Homo sapiens: one gene and its partners. The protein of the gene in region 5 purifies or fractionates together with the protein of the main gene of each other region. This does not show direct contact. Each region holds a gene or a part of one and is shown on either strand. Other genes may lie near its edges.

Region 1 (3,500 bases), on a different chromosome or scaffold from region 5:
TGCATAAATAAATAAAGTTAAATGTATTTGGCCAGTTGTGATGGCTCACACCTGTAATCCCGGCACTTTGGGAGGCCAAGGTGGACAGGTTACTGGAGGCCAGGAGTCCAAGACCAGCCTGGCCAATGTGGCAAAACTCTGTCTCTACTAAAAATACAAAAAGTAGCCGGGCATGGCGGTGCACACCTGTGGTCCCAGGTACTCGGGAGACTGAGGCATGAGAATCACTTGAACCTAGGAGGTGGAGGTTGCAGTGAGCCAAGATCATGCCACTGCACTCCAGCCTGGGCGACACAGCAAGGCTCTGTCTCAAACACAGAAAAACTAACCCCTGCAATGGCTCCCTATGTCACTCAGAGTAAAAGCTAAAGCCTACCAATGGTCCCAAGAGGTCTCACAGTTCCCCTCTGACCACACCTTGTACAACTCTCTTCCTCATTGATCCCAGCTGCAGTAGTCTCTGCTGTCCTTTAACTCATCAAACATATTGTCACCTGCGGGCCTTTGCCAGGGTCTATGTAGCTAATTTCCTCACCTTCTCCCAAGTGTGATGCCACCTTCTTAATAGGGCCTACCTCCCTCCAAACCTGGCACTCCTGATTAGTTTATCCTGTGTTGACTATCTTTTTTTTTTTTTTTGGCATTTACGACCTTTTTTTTTTTTAACATACTATTTATTATGACTTTTTCACATCTATCTCCCTATTAGGATACACGTTCCACAAGGGCAAGGATTTTGTCTCTTTTGTCCACTGCTATATTCCCATAACTGACTGACTGAATGCTAAGCACCACAGAGGAGGAGCAGATAAAAACTCTTGTAGTAGCAGGAGGCACCAGAGGAACAGAGAGGCCAGCCCATTGTTGGGCCTCTGCCTACATCCCTCCAGTACACCCTGTACTTCTCTATCCCTGTTCATTACTTTCTAGCCACGCAGGCCTTCTTGATTCTTGCTATGGTGAGACTGTCCCATCACAAGGCTTTGCTCTAGCTGTCTCCTCGGCCTAGAACACTCTCTGTTCTTTGCCTGGTTGGATCCCTCTTGTCATTCAAGTCTCTGCTTAAATGTCATGTCTTCAGAGCAGCATTCCCTACCACACAATCTGATATACCTACTTAGTCACTTTCTTTTTTTTTTTTGAGATGGGGTCTTGCTCTGTCACTCAGACTGGAGCGCAGTGGTTCCATCATGGCTCACTGCAGCCTCAACCTCCCATGCTTAAGTCATCCTCCCGCCTCAGCCTCCCGAGTAGCTGGAACCACAGGCACACGCAACCATGTCCAGCTAATTTTTTTATTTTTGTAGAGATGGGGTTTCACCATGTTGCCCAGGCTGGTCTTGAACTCCTGAGTTCAACTGACTGTGTGGGCCTCCCAAAGTGCTGGAATTACAGGTGTAAGCCACCGTACCCATCCATTACTTTCTTAACACATCATCCTATTTTAACTCTGTATACAGCCTTTATTACTCCCTGAAATTTTGTTGGTCAATTTTTTATTTTTATTTTTTTGACACAGAATCTGGCTCTGTCACCCAGGCTGGAGTGCAGTGGCACGATCTTGGCTCACTGCAACCTCTGCCTCCCAGGCTCAAGCCATCCTCCCACCTCAGCCTCTCGAGTAGCTGGGACTACAGGCCCATGCCACCATGCCCAGCTAGTTTTTGTATTTTTTTGTAGAGACAGGGTCTTGCTTTGTTGCCCAAACTGGTCTTGAATTCCTGAACTCAAGCGATCTGCATTGCTCGGCCTCCCAAAGTGCTGCCTATGGGATTACAGGTGTGAGTCACTGTGCCAGCCTTGTCAGTTCTTTTCCACAGCTGTCCTCATCTGCCCTATCAAATTCCATACACTTACACATGCTACAAAGCAGCTCCAGACAGACTTTACTGTTCTACTTGCCACTGTATCTCCCGCACCTGGAACAGTGCCTCACATGAACAGGTGCTCAATAAAAACTTGTTGGGTGGATGGAAGCAGGTGAACTGGGTCCCATGGGTGGGCAGAATTCACTCTATCTTCCAAAAGGCATCAAGCAGTCCCTGGGGACTTTAAGATGCCAATCCACGGGGAAGAGAAAGCTCCTCTGTTTGGGGCGAGAGAGTGTATCTCACCTCTGAATGGTTTCCTCCTGTTCCTTAACCATGTGTGCCAACTGCTGAAAGATGGAGCCCAACTCAACAATTGTCGACTCAATGTTCTGCATGGTGTCTGCCCGACTCTGGATGTAGGAATCCTTCAGGAGAGGGAGAGAGCACATGAGCACCAACAGCTTCTTCAGGGTCAGACCTGCATTTTTACAACCCTCCCAGCTTGCCATTCTGCCCATGGCACACTCCAAACACTCTCTCGGGAACCACAGAGGATAATGGAGAAGCTGATTCTACCTAGTTCAGAGCCTGGGTACCTGCTCGTCAATGAGCTGCAGCTGCTGGCTGGTCCGAGAGTCCATCATGTCGATGGCGACATCCTTGGAGGCATGGGACTCTGCCCCCAGAACCACAGCACCACCGCCTGGGGGAGAAAACAGGATGTGGCACACCTTAACAGTTAAAAGCAGGTTCAAAGCCCACATGCTCTGGGTTTGAATCCCAGCTCTAGCACTTACTAGCCTTGTGACCCTGGACAGGTCATTTAACCTCTCTGAGCCTCAGTTTCCTCACCTGTAAAATGGGGGATAATAATAGTTGCTTTCTCAAAGGGTGGTTGTGAAAATTAAATGAGAGAATGTGAATAAAGTGTACGAAAAAAAATTAGAAATTATCATTATTCTGAATATAACTGAATTCACCCCAACAGTGAGAATGTGGGAGTCTAAATGTGGATCACGAATCTCAACCATCTGGTTTGGCCTCTGAGAGATAAAGCCTAGAAAATTCCTTGACCTTCCACTCTCCTACCCAACCCGTGCCTTTAGAGGATGCCATCACAACCAGAGTAAGTAACCTTACCTCCCAGGGCTCCCCGTTTTACCTGTGACTTACCCAGGTGGTTAGGGGCAAGGGGCAGGGCTGACACAGGTGCCCGGGAGAACTGCTCTCTCCGGCTCCTCTGCTGCTTCAGGTTCTGGGGTTGGGGAAAAACGCAAAGGACCTGAAGCCACTAGAAAGCAGGCATGTTAAAGAGACTCCCACCATTGGCCCCATGACCCTGTAGAACTTGTCCCTTCTTCATTTCCCTCTTGGATCTTTACTCCCATATTCCTACCCCTCCTACGCAGATTGTTCTCACCTCTGTCCTCACTTCTAAAACCGATTTGAAGTCATTGGACATAGAAGCCAGTTTCGACTAGAAGAAAAGGAGAGAGGGTCAACCAAAGAAGGCTCCACATTCTTCCTCTTTGCCTCCCTCCCTTCCTCCCCAGGTCCCACCTGCAAGGAGACCACAATGGTGTTGGAGTGGGTCTGCAGGTGCCGGCCACTCTGGCTGCCCTTGGCTCTCACGAAATCCTGGAGCTGAGCAATTTGTTTGTTGAGGCTATTGATGTCCTGGTAAAAGAG
Region 2 (3,500 bases), on a different chromosome or scaffold from region 5:
CCACTTGATCATGGTGGATAAGCTTTTGGATGTGCTGCTGGATTTGGTTTGCCAGTATTTTATTGAGGATTTTTGCATCAATGTTCATCAAGGATATTGGACTAAAATTCTCTTTTTTGGTTGTGTCTCTGCCTGGCTTTGGTATCAGGATGATGCTGGCCTCATAAAATGAGTTAGGGAGGATTCCCTCTTTTTCTATTGATTGGAATAGTTTCAGAAGGAATGGTACCAATTCATCCTTGTACCTCTGGTAGAATTCGGCTGTGAATCCATCTGGTCCTGGACTCTTTTTGGTTGGTAAGCTATTGATTATTGCCACAATTTCAGATCCTGTTATTGGTCTATTCAGAGATTCAACTTCTTCCTGGTTTAGTCTTCAGAGAGTGTATGTGTCGAGGAATTTATCCATTTCTTCTAGATTTTCTAGTTTATTTGCGTAGAGGTGTTTGTAGTATTCTCTGATGGTAGTTTGTATTTCTGTGGGATTGGTGGTGATATCCCCTTTATCATTTTTTATTGCGTCTATTTGATTCTTCTCTCTTTTTTCTTTATTAGTCTTGCTAGCAGTCTATCAATTTTGTTGATCCTTTCAAAAAACCAGCTCCTGGATTCATTAATTTTTTGAAGGGTTTTTTGTGTCTCTATTTCCTTCAGTTCTGCTCTGATTTTAGTTATTTCTTGCCTTCTGCTAGCTTTTGAATGTGTTTGCTCTTGCTTTTCTAGTTCTTTTAATTGTGATGTTAGGGTGTCAATTTTGGATCTTTCCTGCTTTCTCTTGTGGGCATTTAGTGCCATAAATTTCCCTCCACACACTGCTTTGAATGTGTCCCAGAGATTCTGGTATGTTGTGTGTTTGCTCTCGTTGGTTTCAAAGAACATCTTTATTTCTGCCTTCATTTCGTTATGTACCCAGTAGTCATTCAGGAGCAGGTTGTTCAGTTTCCATGTAGTTGAGCGGTTTTGAGTGAGATTCTTAATCCTGAGTTCTAGTTTGATTGCACTGTGGTCTGAGAGATAGTTTGTTATAATTTCTGTTCTTTTACATTTGCTGAGGAGAGCTTTACTTCCAACTCTGTGGTCAATATTGGAATAGGTGTGGTGTGGTGCTGAAAAAAATGTATATTCTGTTGATTTGGGGTAGAGAGTTCTGTAGATGTCTATTAGGTCCACTTGGTGCAGAGCTGAGTTCAATTCCTTGTTGACTTTCTGTCTCATTGATCTGTCTAATGTTGACAGTGGGGTGTTAAAGTCTCCCATTATTAATGTGTGGGAGTCTAAGTCTTTTTGTAGGTCACTCAGGACTTGCTTTATGAATCTGGGTGCTCCTGTATTGGGTGCATATATATTTAGGATAGTTAGCTCTTCTTGTTGAATTGATCCCTTTACCATTATGTAATGGCCTTTTTTGACTCTTTTGATCTTTGTTGGTTTAAAGTCTGTTTTATCAGAGACTAGGATTGCAACCCCTGCCTTTTTTTGTTTTCCATTTGCTTGGTAGATCTTCCTCCATCCTTTTATTTTGAGCCTATGTGTGTCTCTGCATGTGAGATGGGTTTCCTGAATACAGCATACTGATGGGTCTTGACTCTTTATCCAATTTGCCAAGTCTGTGTCTTTTAATTGGAGAATTTAGTCCATTTACATTTAAAGTTAATATTGTTATGTGTGAATTTGATCCTGTCATTATGATGTTAGCTTGTTATTTTGCTCGTTAGTTGATGCAGTTTCTTCATAGTCTCGATGGTCTTTACATTTTGGCATGATTTTGCAGCAACTGGTACCGGTTGTTCCTTTCCATGTTTAGCACTTCCTTCAGGAGCTCTTTTAGGGCAGGCCTGGTGGTGACAAAGTCTCTCAACATTTGCTTGTCTGTAAAGTATTTTATTTCTCCTTCACTTATGAAGCTTAGTTTGGCTGGATATGAGATTCTGGGTTGAAAATTCTCTTCTTTAAGAATGTTGAATATTGGCACCCACTCTCTTCTGGCTTGTAGAGTTTCTGCCGAGAGATCCGCTGTTAGTCTGATGGGCTTCCCTTTGAGGGTAACCTGACCTTTCTCTCTGGCTGCCCTTAACATTTTTTCCTTCATTTCAACTTTGGTGAATCTGACAATTATGTGTCTTGGAGTTGCTCTTCTCGAGGAGTATCTTTGTGGCGTTCTCTGTATTTCCTGAATCTGAATGTTGGCCTGCCTTGCTAGATTGGGGAAGTTCTCCTGGATAATATCCTGCAGAGTGTTTTCCAACTTGGTTCCATTCTCCCCATCACTTTCAGGTACACCAATCAGACGTAGATTTGGTCTTTTCACATAGTCCCATATTTCTTGGAGGCTTTGCTCGTTTCTTTTTATTCTTTTTTCTCTAAACTTCCCTTCTCGCTTCATTTCATTCATTTCATCTTCCATTGCTGATACCCTTTCTTCCAGTTGATCGCATCGGCTCCTGAGGCTTCTGCATTCTTCACGTAGTTCTCGAGCCTTGGTTTTCAGCTCCATCAGCTCCTTTAAGCACTTCTCTGTATTGGTTATTCTAGTTATACATTCTTCTAAATTTTTTTCAAAGTTTTCAACTTCTTTGCCTTTGGTTTGAATGTCCTCCCGTAGCTCAGAGTAATTTGATCGTCTGAAGCCTTCTTCTCTCAGCTCGTCAAAGTCATTCTCCGTCCAGCTTTGTTCCGTTGCTGGTGAGGAACTGCGTTCCTTTGGAGGAGGAGAGGCGCTCTGCTTTTTAGAGTTTCCAGTTTTTCTGCTCTGTTTTTTCCCCATCTTTGTGGTTTTATCTACTTTTGGTCTTTGATGATGGTGATGTACAGATGGGTTTTTGGTGTGGATGTCCTTTCTGTTTGTTAGTTTTCCTTCTAACAGACAGGACCCTCAGCTGCAGGTCTGTTGGAGTACCTGGCCCTATGAGGTGTCAGTGTTCCCCTGCTGGGGGGTGCCTCCCAGTTAGGCTGCTCAGGGGTCAGGGGTCAGGGACCCACTTGAGGAAGCAGTCTGCCCGTTCTCAGATCTCCAGCTGTGTGCTGGGAGAACCACTGCTCTCTTCAAAGCTGTCAGACAGGGACATTTAAGTCTGCAGAGGTTACTGCTGTCTTTTTGTTTGTCTGTGCCCTGCCCCCAGAGGTGGAGCTTACAGAGGCAGGCAGGCCTCCTTGAGCTGTGGTGGGCTCCACCCAGTTCGAGCTTCCCAGCTGCTTTGTTTACCTAAGCAAGCCTGGGCAATGGCGGGCGCCCCTCCCCCAGCCTCACTGCCACCTTGCAGTTTGATCTCAGACTGCTGTGCTAGCAATCAGCGAGACTCCGTGGGCGTAGGTCCCTCCAAGCCAGGTGCAGGATATAATCTCCTGGTGCGCCGTTTTTTAAGCCCGTGGGAAAAGCGCAGTATTCGGGTGGGAGTGACCTGATTTTCCAGGTGCCGTCTGTCACCCCTTTCTTTGACTAGGAAAGGGAACTCCCTGACCCCTTGCGCTTCCTGAGTGAGGCAATGCCTTGCCCTGCTTCG
Region 3 (3,500 bases), on a different chromosome or scaffold from region 5:
TTTGAGGAAATCTTAAGAATTAAAAAAATGCATATACGATACAGTACGTACCCTAGATGAGTTAGGGGCCCACTTGTGGTCTTGGTCATTAGAGTGTACTCAGGGCAGCAGATCATCTGCAAAAGCTGTGGGCCAACCAGCTTCCATAGAAAGTTCCTCACAAAAAGAATAGTTCCTTAGAAGAACCTGGACACACAGAAGGTATTGAATGAGTACTGATTGCTTTTTGACAATAAAATAGGTTCATTATATCTGTATTACAAGGTCGTAAGAAAAATATATACTTTACATATTTATCATGTAATATTTGATATGTACATATAACATATGCAAATTGTAAAGCACAGTGGGGAAATGAATACCAGGGAGCTCCTCCCTAATTTAAGAAGCAAAACTTTACCAGTCTGTGCTCTTTCCCTACCCACTCCTCTGCCTCCTCGACACAGTTCCAGGAGGAACTATTATGGGTTTTGTGTTCATCATTTCCTTCCTTTTTAAAAAGTAGTTTCAGCGTATATGTTACATATCAATCTCAGCAATGTCGCTTTTAGTATTGCATAGTTCTGAGTTTTATAAATATGGTATCATTCTGTACGTAGTCTCTGCAGCTTGCTTTTTCACTCAATATTACATATCAAACATCTCTGGTATTTTGTCTAACCATAGTTAATTATCTTTATGATTTTTTCCAAGTTTTTTTGCTGTTTAGACAATGAACATTCCTATACCTCTCGATACATATGTGCAACAGTTGTTAACATTTTGCTATATCTGCTTCATTTCTCCCTCTTTTTTCCCCCTCTGAACCATTTCAAGGAAAATTATAGATATATTATTTACCCTTAAATACTTTGGCACAAATCTCTCAACAATATAGATGTGCATTCATGAAATAAACTCGGTTTGGTTATGACTCATTATTTTTTATTCCCCTCTGGATTCCATTTGCTAATATTTTACGATTTTTGCATCTATGTTCGTGAATGATACTGGCTTATAATTTTCTTCTCTCATACTGTTCTTATTTTGTTTTTTTATTAGTGATATACTGGTTTACTAAATTAGTTAGGTTAATGTTCCTTTTTTAGTTTTTTAGAGAAGTTTATATAAGAGTGGTATGATCTTTCCTTGGTCATTTGGTAAAACTTGCCTGTAAAACAATTTTGGCGTAGCATTTTCTTTGTGAGAAGATTTTTAGTAACCAATTTAGTTTTGGTAACAGCTTTAGGACTTTTTGATTTTTATAAGTTATTTACCTAGGTTTTAATATATCTTGTAGTCATAATATTTTCTTTTTCATTCTTCATATCATTTTTATGCCTTGTGTCTTTTAAAAAAAAAAAAACTTTTGGCTTTGTTGGCCCCCTCTATTATAACTTCTGTATTTGATTTTATTAATTTTTGCTCTTTACTTTCTTTTTTTTTGCTCTTTCTTTGATTTATTGTCTTTCTTCTAACTTCTTAAGTTGGACATGTTAGCTTATTGCTAATATTTCTTTCTTTCTTTTTTTTTTTTTTTGAGATGGAGTCTTGCTCTGTTGCCCAGGCTGGAGTGCAGTGGCACAATCTTGGCTCACTGCAACCTCCGCCTCCTGGGTTCCAGCGATTATCCTCCCTCAGCCTCCCAAGTAGCTGGGATTACAGGAGGGTGCTACCACGCCTAGCTCATTTTTGTATTTTTTAGTAGAGATGGGGTTTCACCGTATTGGCCAGGCTGGTCTCAAACTCCTGACCTCGTGATCTGCCTGCCTCAGCCTCCCAAAGTGCTGGGATTACAGGCGTGAGCCACTGCGCCCGGCCTAATCTTTCTTTTTTTTGAGATGGAGTCTTGCTCGGTTGCCCAGGCTAGAGTGCAGTGGCATGATCTCAGCTCACTGCAACCTCTGCCTCCCTGGTTCAGGCAATTCTCCTGCCTCAGCCTCCCCAGTAGCTAGGATTACTGGCAATAGCCATACGCCTGGCTAATTTTTGTATTTTTAGTAGAGACAGGGTTTCATCATGCTGGCCAGGCTGGTCTCGAACTCCTGACTTTAGGTGATCTACCCACTCGGCCTCCCAAAGTGCTGGGATTACAGGCATGAGCCACCGTGCCTGGACAGCTTTCTTATTTTCTAATGTAAGCTTTTAAATTTCAAGCAAAGCACTGCTTTTAGTGTATCTTATAGGTTTAATTTGAAGGATTTTAGTTTTGTTCACTTCTAAGTATTTTTATATTTTTCTATTATGGTTTTTCTTTTGTCCATGTATTATTTAGAAGTGTTTGTTAATGTCCAAATATGTCAGAATTTATTTTTCTTTTTTGCTTTTTTTTTCTTCTTGTTTTAACTGGTTTCTGACTCTTGCCTCCTGGTCAGAAAGAATTCTAAGTGAAACTAACTCTGAAATTTATTGAAACTTGTATTTGTTCCCTAAAAAATAATAACATATTTGATGGCTTAAAACTACAAAAATGTATTGTCTCAGTTCTGGAGTTCTGAAAGTAGTATCACTGGGCTGACATCACAATGTCAGCAGGACCACCTTCCCTCCATAGGCTCTTGGGGAGAATCCATTCCTTAATCTGATGGCTGCCAGCATCCTTTGGTTTGTGGCCCCATCATTCCGATCTCTGCCTCCTCAGTCACATTACCTTCTCCTCCTATGCCCCTCTCTTTTAAGAATATATGTGATTGCATTTAGGGCACACTAGGATCCAGGATAACCTCCCCATCTTAAGATCCTTAATCACGTCTATGAATACCTTTGCTTTCCTTTTTTCTTTTACTTTTTGGCACAGAGGGTGCATTCACAAGTTCCAGGGATTAGGACATACATACCTTTTGGGAGCCACTTTTCAGCCTGTCACAATGGTCAAGTTATAAATTTTTCTATCTGTGCTTGGGCAGAATATATATTCTCTAATTGTTGGGTGAGGGTTGGTTCTATCTTGTCCCTATCTCCTCTCACTTAATTTTTTAAAAATATCATCAGTTTGGAGCCAGGCATGGTGGTGTGCAACTGTAATCCCAGCTACTCAGGAGGCTGAGGCAGGAGGATCACTTGAGCCTAGAAGTTCAAGACCAACCTGAGCAACATAGTGTGACCCAATCTCAAAAAAATAAAAACAAAAACCCAGTTCTTTAATAAAAAAAGACATATACATTCTTAGCACTATAAGTAAGAATTTATATGATATTAGTAATTTATTTATCTTTATTTTTTGACCCTTAACTTAGCGTCATCAAATAACATACTTGGGCTGTAATCATAGCAGGTTTATAAATTTAGACACATTCTTCCTGTGTCCCATGATATGGACCCTTCATTTGTTTGTTCATTCCTTTATTCCTTCCTTCATTCATTCAGCATTTATTCAGCAGCATTTATATTAACCGTGTGCCAGGCGTGTTGTAGAAGCTTGGGCCCAAAAATGGATAAGACACAGTGTATGTACTCACTGAGCTCACATATTAGTGTAAGTAGGCAGATATTTTTTAAATGATAAGTAATGTATCATTTAA
Region 4 (2,404 bases), on a different chromosome or scaffold from region 5:
TGGGGTCCACCTAGACATGGCTCTGGCCAGCTCTCCTGCCGCTTCCAGAATTCTCTGGAGAATGTGACCCTGTGATTATCACACCAAACCTCACTTCAGATCCTCCAGGAATGGTTACAAATTGTCCAGACGTGGTGGAGAATAGGACACCGCCCTTGTGCTTAAGGACATGCAATAATGATGTCATCTGCCAGGTAGAACATTACAGGGTGGTTTACAGGCACTTAAAGCAGCACGACCTTGGGCGAGTCGGTAAGCTCTCCCAGCCCTGTTCCCCTCCTCACCCGGAAAGTGTGAACTCTACCTGGCTCAGATCCAGGGTGCTACGAAGGGGATATCCTACACTCCTTGGCTGAATCCAGGATGCCCAGCTCTTTAGGGGCCAGATGTCAAGGTCTGCAGGCTTCTCCCTGCCTGCTGCTCCCGAGGTCCAGCTCCTCGACCCTGCCCGGAGCACCCCTCCTACACCCATCTCCCCTCCAGCCACACTCAAGTCAAGGTCAGAAGTAAAAGATTTTTATTGTTCTATAGACACTTCTGAAAAGAGATCTAATTGAGAAAATATACAAAGCATTTAAGAGTTTCATCCCCAGAGACTGACTGAAGGCGTTACAGCCCTCCTCTCCAAGGCTCAGGGCTGAGAACGGTTAGCATATCGAATGATCAGTAAAAACATGCAAAAGTGAGAAGGAAAGGGAAAAAGGTGCATTCCCCTAAGCTGAGGGGGATGGAATTTCAGAACAGAGGAGGCAGGGTGGACAAGTACCAGGTGGCTCTCCCTTTCCCTCTGTGTTATCTTTCAAAACAGTTCCAAGCTTGGAGAAAGCAATGAGCTCCACCTACTCAGCAGAACCCACGGCTCGTCCCCCGTGGACGTGACTGAGCAGTGACCTTGCCTGCCCCGTTCCTCAGCCGCCCATCCCACTGCCTTGACTGAGGGGACCCTGCTTGTGCTCCTGGGGGGCAGGACTGGGGGTCCTAGCTCCTTGCTTCTTTGGTTCCACTCAGAGAACAGTTGTGCTTGACGGACTCATCCCCACTCCCCAAACTCCAAGCTCCTGCTGGTGGGCTGAAGGCACTGACAGAGTCCCTGGGACACCCCCAGGTAGCCACCTTCTCTTGTGCTCTGGTGGGTCCCTCCCTGGGCACATCGTCCCATCCTCAGCTCAAGCCCCAGGTCTAGGAATAGGGACAGTGAAGAAAGTGTACCCTCCAAGAAAAAGCTTCTGAGGACTTTTCTAATTGTGCAGATACTTCTGAAGCCCATGCCGCCCCGCCCCCACAGCCCCATCCCCTTGCCCAGGGCCTCACATGCCCGGCTCCCCCAACCGGTCCTTCCCCTTGGGCTGCCGGTGCAGCTGTGGGCCCAGGCTTTGGCAGGCCCAGCTTCAAGACAGTGGGACACAGAAAACACTTTGCAGCATCGCCTCTCCCTCCGCCACACCCAGGTCAGCAGAGATGGGCCCCCCACCGAGAGATCACAGCTCTGGTACAGGGAGGTGGGCAGGGTTGGAGAGGAATGGAGAGACATGTCACCTCTATAGAAACGCGTCCAAAGTACAAGCTAAGCAGGGGGAAGGAGGAGGGCCAGAGAGCAGCCGGAAAGAAGAAAAGAGGAACACGGCAGGGGGTTCTGGGGGAGGAGGGCCTCACACCACCCCGCAGATGAGCGTCTCCACCACGAAGGTGTTCTCGAAGTGGCGGATGGCATTGCAGTTCTTGGCCCCACGCTTGTTGATCCCTGGGAGGAAAAAGAAAAACCCCAGTGAGCCCTGCATCCTGGCTGAGTCACAAAGACCACCAGCCTCAGCCTGAGCCACAGGAGGGCCAGGAAGTGACACCATTCACCCAGATTCACCCAAAGAGCACAGTGAGAAATGGGGAGAGCTCGAAAGCTGGAGTCAGCCTGCCCATGTCTGCCACCTCCCTGCTGTGTGACCTCCAGGGTGTTAACCTCTCTGCACCTGTTTCCTCATCTTTAAAATGGGCAGCAAAAATAATAATGAGGATGAGAATGACTTACACTCTTAAGAGGTCATAAAGAGCACACAGCATTGCCCGGCACACGGAAGTGCTCTGCTAATGCTAGCTGTTATTGCTGCTGCTATCTGAGCTCTCTGACAGCTGGGCTAGGCGTGAAGATAACTGTGGTCTGGGGCACGGGACAGGGGCTACTGTGGGTGAAGCCAGCCACTCACGCCTCCGCGTTGCCCGGCGCCGGAGCCGGTAGGTGTCTTTCCCGTTGCACAGGTGGTAGATGAAGGACCCCAGGGCCTCCTTGTCACTGACATGCTCCGTGACCACCATCTCCTCCTGGATGATGTACGTCTGCGGCAGGTAGGTCCCCCTCTGCAAAACAAGGTGGCCGCCACAGTGAGTCGGCCCCTCAGGCTTTCGTCCAACC
Region 5 (3,500 bases):
TTATTCCCCAGCCCCCGACAGGCCCAGGAGTGTGATGTTCCCCTCCCTGTGTCCATGTGTCCTTGTGGTTCAATTCCCACGTATGAGTGAGAACATGCGGTGTTTGGTTTTCTGTTCCTGTGTTTGTTAGTTTGCCAAGAATGATGGCTTCCAGCTTCATCCATGTCCCTGCAAAGGACATGATCTCATTCTTTTTTACAGCTGCATAGTATTCCATGGTGTATATGTACCACATTTTCTTTATCCAGTCTATCACTGATGGGCATTTGGGTTGGTTCCATGTCTTTGCTATTGTAAATGGTGCTACAATAAACATACGTGTTTACTGTATAAACATACGTTTCTATAGAATGATTTATGTTCCTTTGGGCATATGCCCAGTAATGGGATTGCTGGGTCAAATGGTATTTCTGGTTCTAGATCCTTGAGGAATCCCCACACTGTCTTCCACAACGGTTGAACTAATTTACACTCCCACCAACAGTATAAAAACTTTCCTATTTCTCCACAGCCTGGCCAGCATCTATTGTTTCCTGACTTCTTAATCATCACCATTCTGACTGGCGTGAGATCTCATTGTGGTTTTGATTTGCATTTCTCTAATGATCAATGATGATGAGCTGTTTTTCATGTTTCTTGGCTGTATGTCTTCTTTTTCTACAAGGAACTTAAATTTACAAGAAAAAAAAAACCCAATCAAAAAGTGGGCAAAGGATATGAAATACAATTATTTTATCCCTAATTCATGAAAGTAAATGACTCAAATACATTGTATAGCAATAAAGATATTTAAAATGAAATGCTTCACATGATTACTCTCCCAATCAAGCTTCATTAAACCCAATCAAAAAGGTACCAGGTAATTTCTACACAGAGTTCATCATCACTTCACAGACCTTTGGGAAATCTATGAAAATAGAAAAAACCAAAAACCTTGCTCTTTACTGTTTTCTAAGCACTTCTTATTCTTTAAACATTTACCAAGTCCCTACTACATACAAGACCTATGCCAAGGATCACAAACTGGCAGCCCAATGACTCTATCTCACTTCCAAGTGTGTTTTGCTTGATCCATGCAGTATTTTTAAATTAGATACTTTCATGAAAATTGTTTTATGGCTTTCTTCAAAAAAATATCAAAAGCTACGGCATCAGCAGGCTTGCATCCCTGTATGGCAACAGGCTGGGGCTGGGCAGCACTGTCCCGCCACATGAGCATGCACCTCCTGGCGCTTCTCCCCGCTCTTCACTTCCAAATGCCCTCCACGTCCCAGCTGCTCATTCATTTTAGTTATTCCTCTACACCCTGAGTTCATCTGAGTTTGCAACCCTCTTCCATGACTAATAAATTCTGTATCTTACTATTAATCTACACATCTCAGGATCATGCAGTCCTAATGTCTAATATCTCCAAATCAAACATTTTAAAAATAAACTTAAAAAAAAACACCGTTTAAAAGCTAGTTATAAAGTTTACATAAGCAACTTATTTAGTGTTGACTTGCTGTATCTTAAGGTAGGCTCCACACTGACATCTCATGGGTGGTTTACAAATCTGCCTATTCAGTCCCTTGCTAAGTTGACAAATTCATTAGGATACCCTTAACAAAACTGGTCTCATTTTCGCCAACCCCAAAACATAACTTTATTATTTAGCTATGGAAACTAACAATAACACAGACTGAAAGACACTGTATGAAATAAGACTGCTATCATTCACTCAAGCAGAATGAAATGCTAATGCATTTCCAAACCTCAGTGAAAAAATAAAAACAATACTTTTTTTGTTATAAAACCAAAAGTCAATGAAAGAATCCGAGTCTACAATATCTGCTGAAAAATATCTGAATGAACAGGGGAGGTAAACCTAACAAAATCTCTCTCAGACACATTAGTCCTGAGGGTCATTTTGGCTTTTAAAGAATACAACTGAACCTTGAACAGCAGAGATTTAAACTGTGCTGGTCCAATTATACGCAGACTGTCTTGCTCCTCTGCCACCTGAGACAGCAAAACCAACCCCTCTTCTTCCTCCTCCTCCTCTTCCTCCTCCTCAGCCCAAACGTGAAGACTATGATGAGGATGAAGAGCCCTATGATGCTCTACTTCCACTTAAAGAACACTAAATATATTTTCTCTTCCTTACGATTTTCTTAATATTTTCTTTTCTCTAGCTTTATTCTAAGAATACAGTATAAAACATATTCCATACAACATACAACATATGTACTAACTGACTGTTTATATTATTTATAAGACTTCCAGTCAGTAGTAGGGTAGTGGCTCACGCCTATAATCCCAGCACTTTGGGAGGTTGAGGCAGAAGTATCACTTGAGCCCAGGAGTTTGAGCCCAGCCTGGGAAAAACAGCGAGAACCAGTCTCTACCAAAAAAATTAAAAAATTAGCAGGGCATGGTGACATGCACCTATAGTCCCAGCTACTCAGGAGGCTGAGGTGGGAGGATCGCCTGAGCCCAGGAGGTTGAGGCTGCAGTAAGCCATGATTGTGCCACTGCAATCCAGCCTGGGCAACAGAGCAAGATCCTGTCTCAAAAAAAAAAAACAAAAACAGGCTATTAGTAAAGTTTTTGGGGAGTAAAAAGTTATATGTAGAGTTTCAACTGCACAAGGGGTTGGCATCCCAACCCTTGGGTAGTTCAAGGGTCAACTGTATTTCCTCCCCAAATATACCTACCCACTAATTACATATATAATGTGAATCTACAACATAAAAGCATTTGGGAGGATAAAAAAACCACAGGAACTATTCGTCATGAGTTTTACCCAGTAGATAGAGCAAAAAATACATTAGAAGGCAGTAAAAATGGCATCCGAGTCCTATTTGTTGTTTAAAAATTAGCAACTACATCTTCCTGTTTTTGCGTAAAATCAAGTGAGGCTGTGAGTAAGAGGTCCAACCACAATATTGATACTTCTCCATAAAAAATGATGAGCTGCCTACTTGAAAGTTATACCCTCCACCATAAATATGCCTATTTTCAATGGCTGTGTGCCAGTGGAGCAAACAGGATATGAAATCACAGCAGTCATCAAGTGACAGAACCAAAGGTTGATCCAACAAGTTTCTGTGGCTTCCCTTGTGCATATGTCTACAAAATGGCACTCCCCAAGCCTTTCTGGTGAATCAGTGTGAAGGTTTGTATGACAAATTGGTAGAAATTTTAGCCCACAGAATTGTGGACCACGTAGCTCAGGGGTCCTGTGCTCCCAACAGTGTCCAAAGGCATTTAATTTAAATATAAGACAATGCCAGAAAGCATTTTCCTTCATCTGTTTCCCTATCCACTAAGTTAATTTTCTTTCATTCAAAGTAGTGCCTTTCCAACCCTCAAATTAAATAGATACTTGAGCAATGGAAATGATGCCTGAATAATAACTTTTGATGAAGATTCAAGTCTTAGTACAGCTGTTGTAATATAAACTGAGGCTGTGAGAATTAGAGTGTTTGAGCATTTCTTAAACAGGCATGAAGTACACT
Region 6 (3,500 bases), on a different chromosome or scaffold from region 5:
TCAATAAATAAATCCTTTTCTCAGGAGATCAAAGACTGAAATATTTTTTCAATGGCGTCCCACCATCAGCTAAATAAAATGAAGTTTTATTTTAGATTGATATTTCAGACTTTCTAGGATCTGGTCAATGATGTTTATACCCTCATTTGACACTACTTTTCCTCAAGTAATTCAAATATTTGTCAAAAACTACTTGAAAAGTAGTGTCAAATGAGGCTATAAACTGTTTTCCATACACATCCTAGGCTTTCTAACTATGTGTCTTTACTCAGGGTGTTCCCTAGGCCGAAACTGACTTTTTCTTATACTTCTGCATGTCTCAACCCTACTGGATACTTCAAAGGCAGCTTGAGGAAGCTGCCTTCTCTGATCTTTTCATCTCTGAACTCCGACAGGGCTTTGGTGTAGTTTTCCCATGGATTTTATCACATAGTCTTATATCATAGTTATCTGTGAACCCTACTAGTTGGTCAGGGAGCTCCTTAAGGGAATAAGTAATTCTACCTCTGTATCCCTATTTTTAGCAGCATACTAGATCTGGAATTTGAACAGAGGGAGTCTGACTTGAAAATCCATTATTTTCTATTGCATAGATTAACCTCAAATTTTTAAGCCCACTTACTGATACTGGGCATCTTTGCTATATCTAATTTTACCTTAAAATAATATTGATTAAAAATCCTAGTACATCTTTCTGCATTCATAGAATTATTTGTTTAGGACAAATCCCTTGAGGTGGATAACTGGTTTAAGAAGTTATACATATTTTTAAGGTTTTTGATACATACTACCATGATATCTCCATATCTGTATTTCCCTTCACATGATTGTGGCTAGTTCTTAATACCACATGGATTTTTTTCTATCATCTACACTCAGAGATTAGAGTGTTTTGGTTAGCTTTTGATTACTTAATGTACAAGCAATCAATCAGAGTACAGTCTTAGAAAATTAGGTACCATGCTCTAATCCTTAATCTACTTGCACTATGTCTTTCGGTGTTTTCCTCTGATTTAATAAATTCTATTTACTATAGTAGCACAATTCTGACAAATAAAGTTTTCATATTTAGCATAAGGAGCCTGCATATCTTTTCAAAATCACCAACACAAAAAAGTAACCATTTTTTAGGAGATGGAGGTGAGAGCAAGAAAGGGGAAAAAGTAAAATTAACCTTTTCTTTCTAGAGGTAAAAGGTTAAGCTAATTTACTATATAAATTCATTAATATTCTGTGTGTGTGTGTGTGTGTGTGTGTGTGTGTGTCATATACAATTTTATGAGAGACCAAAAGCAAAATTAGAGTAGAAAGTTATTTACAAACCATTGGGAATTTAACTTTACATTACTTAATATTTTCTTTAGAAGATAGTTGCCATGTTTGTCCCCTTAAACACCATGTTGAAATGTGAACCCAAGTGGGGCCTAATGGAAGGTGTTTGGGTCATGGGGCAGATCCCTCATTAATGGCTTGGTTCCATCCTCAGAGCAGTGAATGAGTTCTCGCTATATTTGTTCCTACGAGAGCTGGTTGTTAAAAAAAAAAGCCTAGCACCTCCCAACCCCTTGCTTCCTCTCTGGCCCAGTGATCTTTACACACCAGCTCCAATCTGCCTTCTGACATGAACAGAAGCAGCCTGAGGCTTTGACCAGATGCTCAATCTTGCAGCCAGCAGAATCATGAGCCAAACAGGCCTTTTTTTCTTTATAAATTACTCAGTCTTAGGTATTCCTTAATAGCCACCCAAACAGACTAAAACAATAATAATTAAATACTGGATTTCTTCGTTTTGTTTTGTTGAGACAGAGTCTCGCTTTGTCGCCCAGTCTGGAGTGCAATGGTGTGATCTTGGCTCATTGCAACCTCCGCCTCCCAGGTTCAAGCAATTCTCCTGCCTCAGCCTCCCAAGTAGCTGGGATTACAGGCACCTGCCACCACACCTGGCTAGTTTTTCATATTTTTACTAGAGACGGGGTTTCACCATGTTGGCCAGGCTGGTCTTGAACTCCTGACCTCAGGTGATCCACCCACCTTGGCCTCCCAAAGTGCTGGGATTACAGGCAAGATTTTATTTTTTTTTTAAATATAACTACACACTGCTCCATAATCAAACACATACACAGACACAAATATATGTCCATATATATATATATATATATCTACATACACAGAAACACGTTTGAGTTTAAAAGATTTAAAGATTTAAAGTTGATTGGAAAAGGAAATAAATCTTTTATTTATTAAAGAAAATTCTTTTTCTTAAAACAAACAAACAAAAACGCAGAATGTGCAAGTCTGTCACATAGGTTTACGTGTGCCATGGTGGCTTGCTGCACCTATTGACCTGTCCTCTAAGTTCCCTCCCCTCACCCCCAACCCCAGAAAAGGAAATAATTCTATTTTTACCTTATTCTAACATTATTTATTTGATGATATATAATTCATTCAATAAATACTTGTAAGTGAATTAATTTAGTCATTATTCCCACTCACCCATCCCAAATCTGTTTCTTCCTCGTGTAATGCCAACAGTATCCTCCTAGACACCCAGACTAAAAATCTCAGTCATCTTTAGCTACTTTCTCCCTATGTCTCTTCTCTCTACTCATTCACTAAATCTTCTTGATTCTAGCTCTTTTTTGAAATAAAACTTAAACATATAAACAAAAAAATAAGATAACCTGGCAGGCATGTTCTGTGGCCCATTCTTCATCCAAGTTATCCAACTTAGCTTTGGGATGTTTGAGGTTCTCACTTTGCTCCTCTTTGGGTGGCGTTCTAGTGGCAAGAATCACATAATCCTTTTGTGACGAACACTTCAACAACAAATTAAAAAGCTTGTTAGAGTGATATCTGATTCCTCAATCTAATTAGAGTGATACCTAAATTCCTTAGCTTTTATGACATGCAAAAACTGAGTAATATTTGTAACAGGTTAAATCATTAATACCCACATTATAATGGAAGCTAAAGGGAAGCTAATTTTCAAGGATGGCCTTACAATCTTTCCCTCACATGTTGTTTATCTTTTAATGTATTTAATATCAGCTTCTTATTTATTTGGACAACTCAAATGTAAATCATGGAGTGGTCCCTAAAAATGGTTTACTGGATGAGTGAATGAATTACATTAACTAAAAAGTAATATGCTTATTCAGTTTTCTAGTTATATTTGTTTTATAAGTTATAAATGAACAGATCGGAAAATATTAGTAAAATGAAACAACAAGTGACCTTTTGTATCTTATTTTAATTGAAATGATGACAGTAGGGAACTTCCACATACATTTCCACAGAATAACAAAGGGGATTTGGGACACAATTTAAAGTGATACAGATTCTATGTTCCTCAAGTTTTTTGTTTTGTTTTGTTTTTTGTTCTTTGTGTGTGTGTGTATTTATTTATTTATTTAGAGACAGGGTCTTGCTCTAATGCCCAGGCTGGAGTGCAGTGGTGTGATCATAGCTCACTGCAACCTTGCACTCCTGGGCTCAAGCAA
Region 7 (3,500 bases), on a different chromosome or scaffold from region 5:
AAAGTTAAGCAACCTGCTCAAAGTCACACAGTTTGAAAGTGGCAGAGCCAGGATTCAAACACAGGCTGTCTGGTTGCAGAGTCTGGCTCTTAGGCATTATACTATGCCACTTGATCGTACCATTTCCCCCTCTGAGCTTACTACCGATTTCACTAATTATGACATATCCTGATTAAGCTGACTAATTTTTCATGTTTAATAGCAACCCAGCCTGCTTCTAAGCTCTCTAAGCACAAAGACTTAATCTATGGCTTCTCTCAAGCTACCCTCTCAGTGCATTATATAATAGTAGCTGTTGCTGACAGATAACTTGACTGATCTGCTTACTATCTTCCACAAATGCTTCTATTTGTTGGCATTAACAATTTCACATCTGTTTCACAAATGTGCAGAAAAGGGTTCATGTAGTAGGCCTGAGGCTGCTATCCTTAGAAAGGCCTGCTTGCAAGGTTAACCCTTGCCTGGCATCTGAGAAGTTGGACTTTGGCAGAGTTCATGCCATCCTAATTGATAAAAACAGCTCGCCGTGCCTGAACTGTTTTGCAAAACATGCGGTTTGAATGCAGTTCAGTGCTGAGCACCTGCTTTCCTCCTGGGAGTCTAGAGTTTCGGTAGATGCCAGGTGTGAGGTGCCTATGTGACCAGCCCCTAACAGAATCCTTGGGCAATGAGTTACTAATGAGCTTCCCTGGTAGACAACACTTCACGTGTTGTCATAGGTCACATGCTGTGTGACTCCACTGGGAGAGTACTCTTAGAAGCTCATGCCTGGTTTCCTCTGGACTTTTGTCCCACATGCCTTTTCCTTTGCTGTTTTGCTTCGTATCCTTTCAGTGTGACAAATCATAGCCAGGAGCAGGACTGTATGTTGAGTCCCATGAGACCTCTTAGTGAATCCTAGAACCAGAGAGTAGTGCTGGGGACCCCTGACACAGTAAGAATTTAAAAAATGTGGGCCAGACATGGTGGCTCACGCCTGTAGTCCAGCACTTTGGGAGGCAGGGGGATTGCCTGAGCCCAGGAGTTTGACAGCAGCCTGGGCAACATAGTGACATCCCACCCTTATAAAATAAAATTAAAAAATAGGCAGACATGGTAGCACATGCCTGTAATCCCAGCTACTCGGAAGGCTAAAGTGGGAGGATTGTTTGAGCCCAGGAGGTCGTGCCACTGCACTCCATCCTGGGAGACAGGGTGAGACCCTGTCTCAAAAACAAAAAAAACAAAAAAAAACAAAAAAGAAAATGTGTCCCCAAACAGTTATGTGATGTTATCTTCTGAAAGAACATCCTAAAACCTTTCTAAAGCTAGTCTAGAAATGGTCCAGGTTTGGATACTTGCTCACTGATGTATTCCATCTCCAAGACTGGCTGAGTTGCAGCGGGAACGACTGTGAGGACACAGCTCTTGCATTCCAGATGCTCATGTGAGCCCAGAGGGGAAACCAGGCAGGCGCCATGGAAAATACAGGAGCCTGGCCCTCCTGCTTCCTGTGGCCTTGGATGAGTCATTTACCCTGCTGGAGCGTCAGCGTCCTTACCTGCTGACAGGGCTCCTAATAGTGCCTGCATGGGACAGGTAGTGGGGTTGGAGGGAGGTGTGCACTCAGAGCATGTGGCATCGAGCAAGTCTGTCACAGGTGACCTGAGGACAGCCTTGTGGTGGCCTGCTTGTTGTGCCCTCGCTCTTCTCTCAGGAATACACTTTCAGGGACGACAAGAAGGGGTATGGGGGTCAAAGAGATTGAGGTAAAATGGCTCAAGATGTGCCAGCCTCATCGGGTTAAGAGACAAAATGGGCAAGAGCACAGATTTTGGACCAACAGCCTAGGCTCAAACCCCAGCTATGCTACCTGTGGGACTGTGGGATCTAGGGTGAGTGGCCAAGCCTCCTGAGCCTCAACTTCCTCATTTGTAAAATGAGGGAGGAAACAGTACCTGCCTCATGGGGGTTTGTTGTGGGCCAATAAAGTGGCTGGCATGCTGCCTGGCACACAGTGAGTGCCCGGTAGCGCCAGCTATGGCATTTTGCGAAGAAGTTCAAACACGGTACATTGCATAGGGTAAGTGCTCTACAAACTTTAACTGCTATTATTAGTAGTACTATTATTAATTAAGAAACACCAATGAAAGCAATACTTACAATCTTTTCTTATCCACCACTCTTTTAACTCGGATGGCTCTCTGTTCTGAGTAAAGTTTACATACTCCTGTTGCAGAAGAAAATACCAGAAGAGAGACTGCTTAAAACAGCTTCTCAGGCAAAGCCATCATTAAATATAATGAGATACTACAGTCTTCAGCTAGCAAAGCTAAATTCTGCATCACATCTATTGTGAAATGTTACATTTGACCTTTAAAAGAAAATGAAATACTTTTCAAGTAATCTTCAATGAAATCCAAAACAGCGGTCCTGTGCTCCTTCACTTGCTGGGAATGTATCTCCTTGTGAGCTGTAACAGAAAAAGACAATGTTCAGGCCTTCGCACTCAATTATCCTAAAGAGCAATTCATCAGCTTCCTCACAACACTTTCTTTATTGAGAGTATTTTTTAAAACACAGCTATAAAACAAGTCTTGTGCCAAGTGACACTACATTTTTAAAACAGTAAGATGTATCAGGCTTCGCAAGAGTGAAAGATTAAACCTGTAGAAAATCTATAGTCAAATAATTTATGGTTTATCAGAACACTTAAGGATAGTATTTGACGCAGCCACTTCTTGAGTGCTGACCCCATCTGTGTTAACAGCATCCAATGCTCAAGCTGACCTTCAGCGAACATGTTTAAACAACTGAAATCACACACTCCTCCCTGCTTGAACCTGTGCTGCTTTTCAGCCTGTAGTGCCCCATCCTCTCCCCTTGGCCACTCACATTCTAAGGGTCCCTTAGACAATGAGTCAAACTTTCTGTCTCCAGGAAACCTATGACTCCTAGCCACAAAGATGCCTTTCTCCTGGGAACTACCACACAGAAGTGTGCTAAAAGGCCTTACCAGACCTAAAGTCTGTGCCACTGGTTTTGGTAAGATAGTGACCACTGACTGAGAGACTGAGTGCCTACTGCGTGCAGGTACTCTGCTAGCACTTTACATATGTACTGCTAGTAATTACAATAGCAATTCCGAGTTTCCTGATTTTTACACGTGAAGAAACTAAGGTTCAGAGGCAATAAATAGCCCAAGGTTAGATGGTTTCATATGTAAATGTAGGTTTTGTTAAATATTCCTGTGCATTTTTTAGGTCTCTCAATGAATGTATATGCCCTTAAGGGTAGAGGGCATGATTTCTGCCTTACTATAGGGCTGCTTAACCCAAGATTTGTGTGGGGGACTCAGGAGCTCTGTGAAATTGCATATAGAATTTTGTGTATGTACATTTTTCTGGCAAGAATGCCTATTGCTTCCATCAGAGTCTCCAAGTGGTCCGTCAGCATTCTAATAAAAACCTCCCCAACAAAAGTCTGTGTTGTGAGCACAACAGCATCTGGCAGCTTTGAAC

Evidence for each region.
Region 1: the proteins of NAPG (region 5) and STX5 purify together in Homo sapiens (affinity purification with mass spectrometry; one large-scale study listed by BioGRID and IntAct). This does not show direct contact.
Region 2: the proteins of NAPG (region 5) and PRKACB purify together in Homo sapiens (affinity purification with mass spectrometry; 3 studies listed by BioGRID and IntAct, with this or other methods). This does not show direct contact.
Region 3: the proteins of NAPG (region 5) and UFSP2 purify together in Homo sapiens (affinity purification with mass spectrometry; 2 studies listed by BioGRID and IntAct, with this or other methods). This does not show direct contact.
Region 4: the proteins of NAPG (region 5) and ITM2C purify together in Homo sapiens (co-immunoprecipitation; one large-scale study listed by IntAct). This does not show direct contact.
Region 6: the proteins of NAPG (region 5) and ODR4 purify together in Homo sapiens (affinity purification with mass spectrometry; one large-scale study listed by BioGRID and IntAct). This does not show direct contact.
Region 7: the proteins of NAPG (region 5) and STX18 purify together in Homo sapiens (co-immunoprecipitation; 2 studies listed by BioGRID and IntAct, with this or other methods). This does not show direct contact.

What each region holds. Positions count from the first base shown.
Region 1 is NC_000011.10:62,822,052-62,825,551, forward strand, and holds part of STX5 (syntaxin-5), read right to left. Parts: intron 3,489-3,500; coding exon 3,372-3,488; intron 3,289-3,371; coding exon 3,232-3,288; intron 3,067-3,231; coding exon 2,985-3,066; intron 2,515-2,984; coding exon 2,408-2,514; intron 2,237-2,407; coding exon 2,115-2,236; intron 1-2,114. UniProt on the Homo sapiens protein: Mediates endoplasmic reticulum to Golgi transport.
Region 2 is NC_000001.11:84,231,271-84,234,770, forward strand, and holds part of PRKACB (cAMP-dependent protein kinase catalytic subunit beta), read left to right. Parts: intron 1-3,500. UniProt on the Homo sapiens protein: Mediates cAMP-dependent signaling triggered by receptor binding to GPCRs.
Region 3 is NC_000004.12:185,408,965-185,412,464, reverse strand, and holds part of UFSP2 (ufm1-specific protease 2), read left to right. Parts: intron 1-51; exon of another isoform or gene 52-3,500. UniProt on the Homo sapiens protein: Thiol-dependent isopeptidase that specifically cleaves UFM1, a ubiquitin-like modifier protein, from conjugated proteins, such as CD274/PD-L1, CYB5R3, DDRGK1, MRE11, RPL26/uL24, TRIP4 and RPL26/uL24.
Region 4 is NC_000002.12:230,877,345-230,879,748, reverse strand, and holds the end of ITM2C (integral membrane protein 2C), read right to left. Parts: intron 2,350-2,404; coding exon 2,199-2,349; intron 1,742-2,198; coding exon 1,650-1,741; 3' UTR 501-1,649; downstream 1-500. UniProt on the Homo sapiens protein: Negative regulator of amyloid-beta peptide production. May inhibit the processing of APP by blocking its access to alpha- and beta-secretase.
Region 5 is NC_000018.10:10,536,027-10,539,526, reverse strand, and holds part of NAPG (gamma-soluble NSF attachment protein), read right to left. Parts: intron 595-3,500; exon of another isoform or gene 556-594; coding exon of another isoform or gene 553-555; intron 1-552. UniProt on the Homo sapiens protein: Required for vesicular transport between the endoplasmic reticulum and the Golgi apparatus.
Region 6 is NC_000001.11:186,382,338-186,385,837, reverse strand, and holds part of ODR4 (protein odr-4 homolog), read right to left. Parts: intron 2,817-3,500; coding exon 2,682-2,816; intron 1-2,681. UniProt on the Homo sapiens protein: May play a role in the trafficking of a subset of G-protein coupled receptors.
Region 7 is NC_000004.12:4,455,049-4,458,548, forward strand, and holds part of STX18 (syntaxin-18), read right to left. Parts: intron 2,453-3,500; coding exon 2,375-2,452; intron 2,210-2,374; coding exon 2,143-2,209; intron 1-2,142. UniProt on the Homo sapiens protein: Syntaxin that may be involved in targeting and fusion of Golgi-derived retrograde transport vesicles with the ER.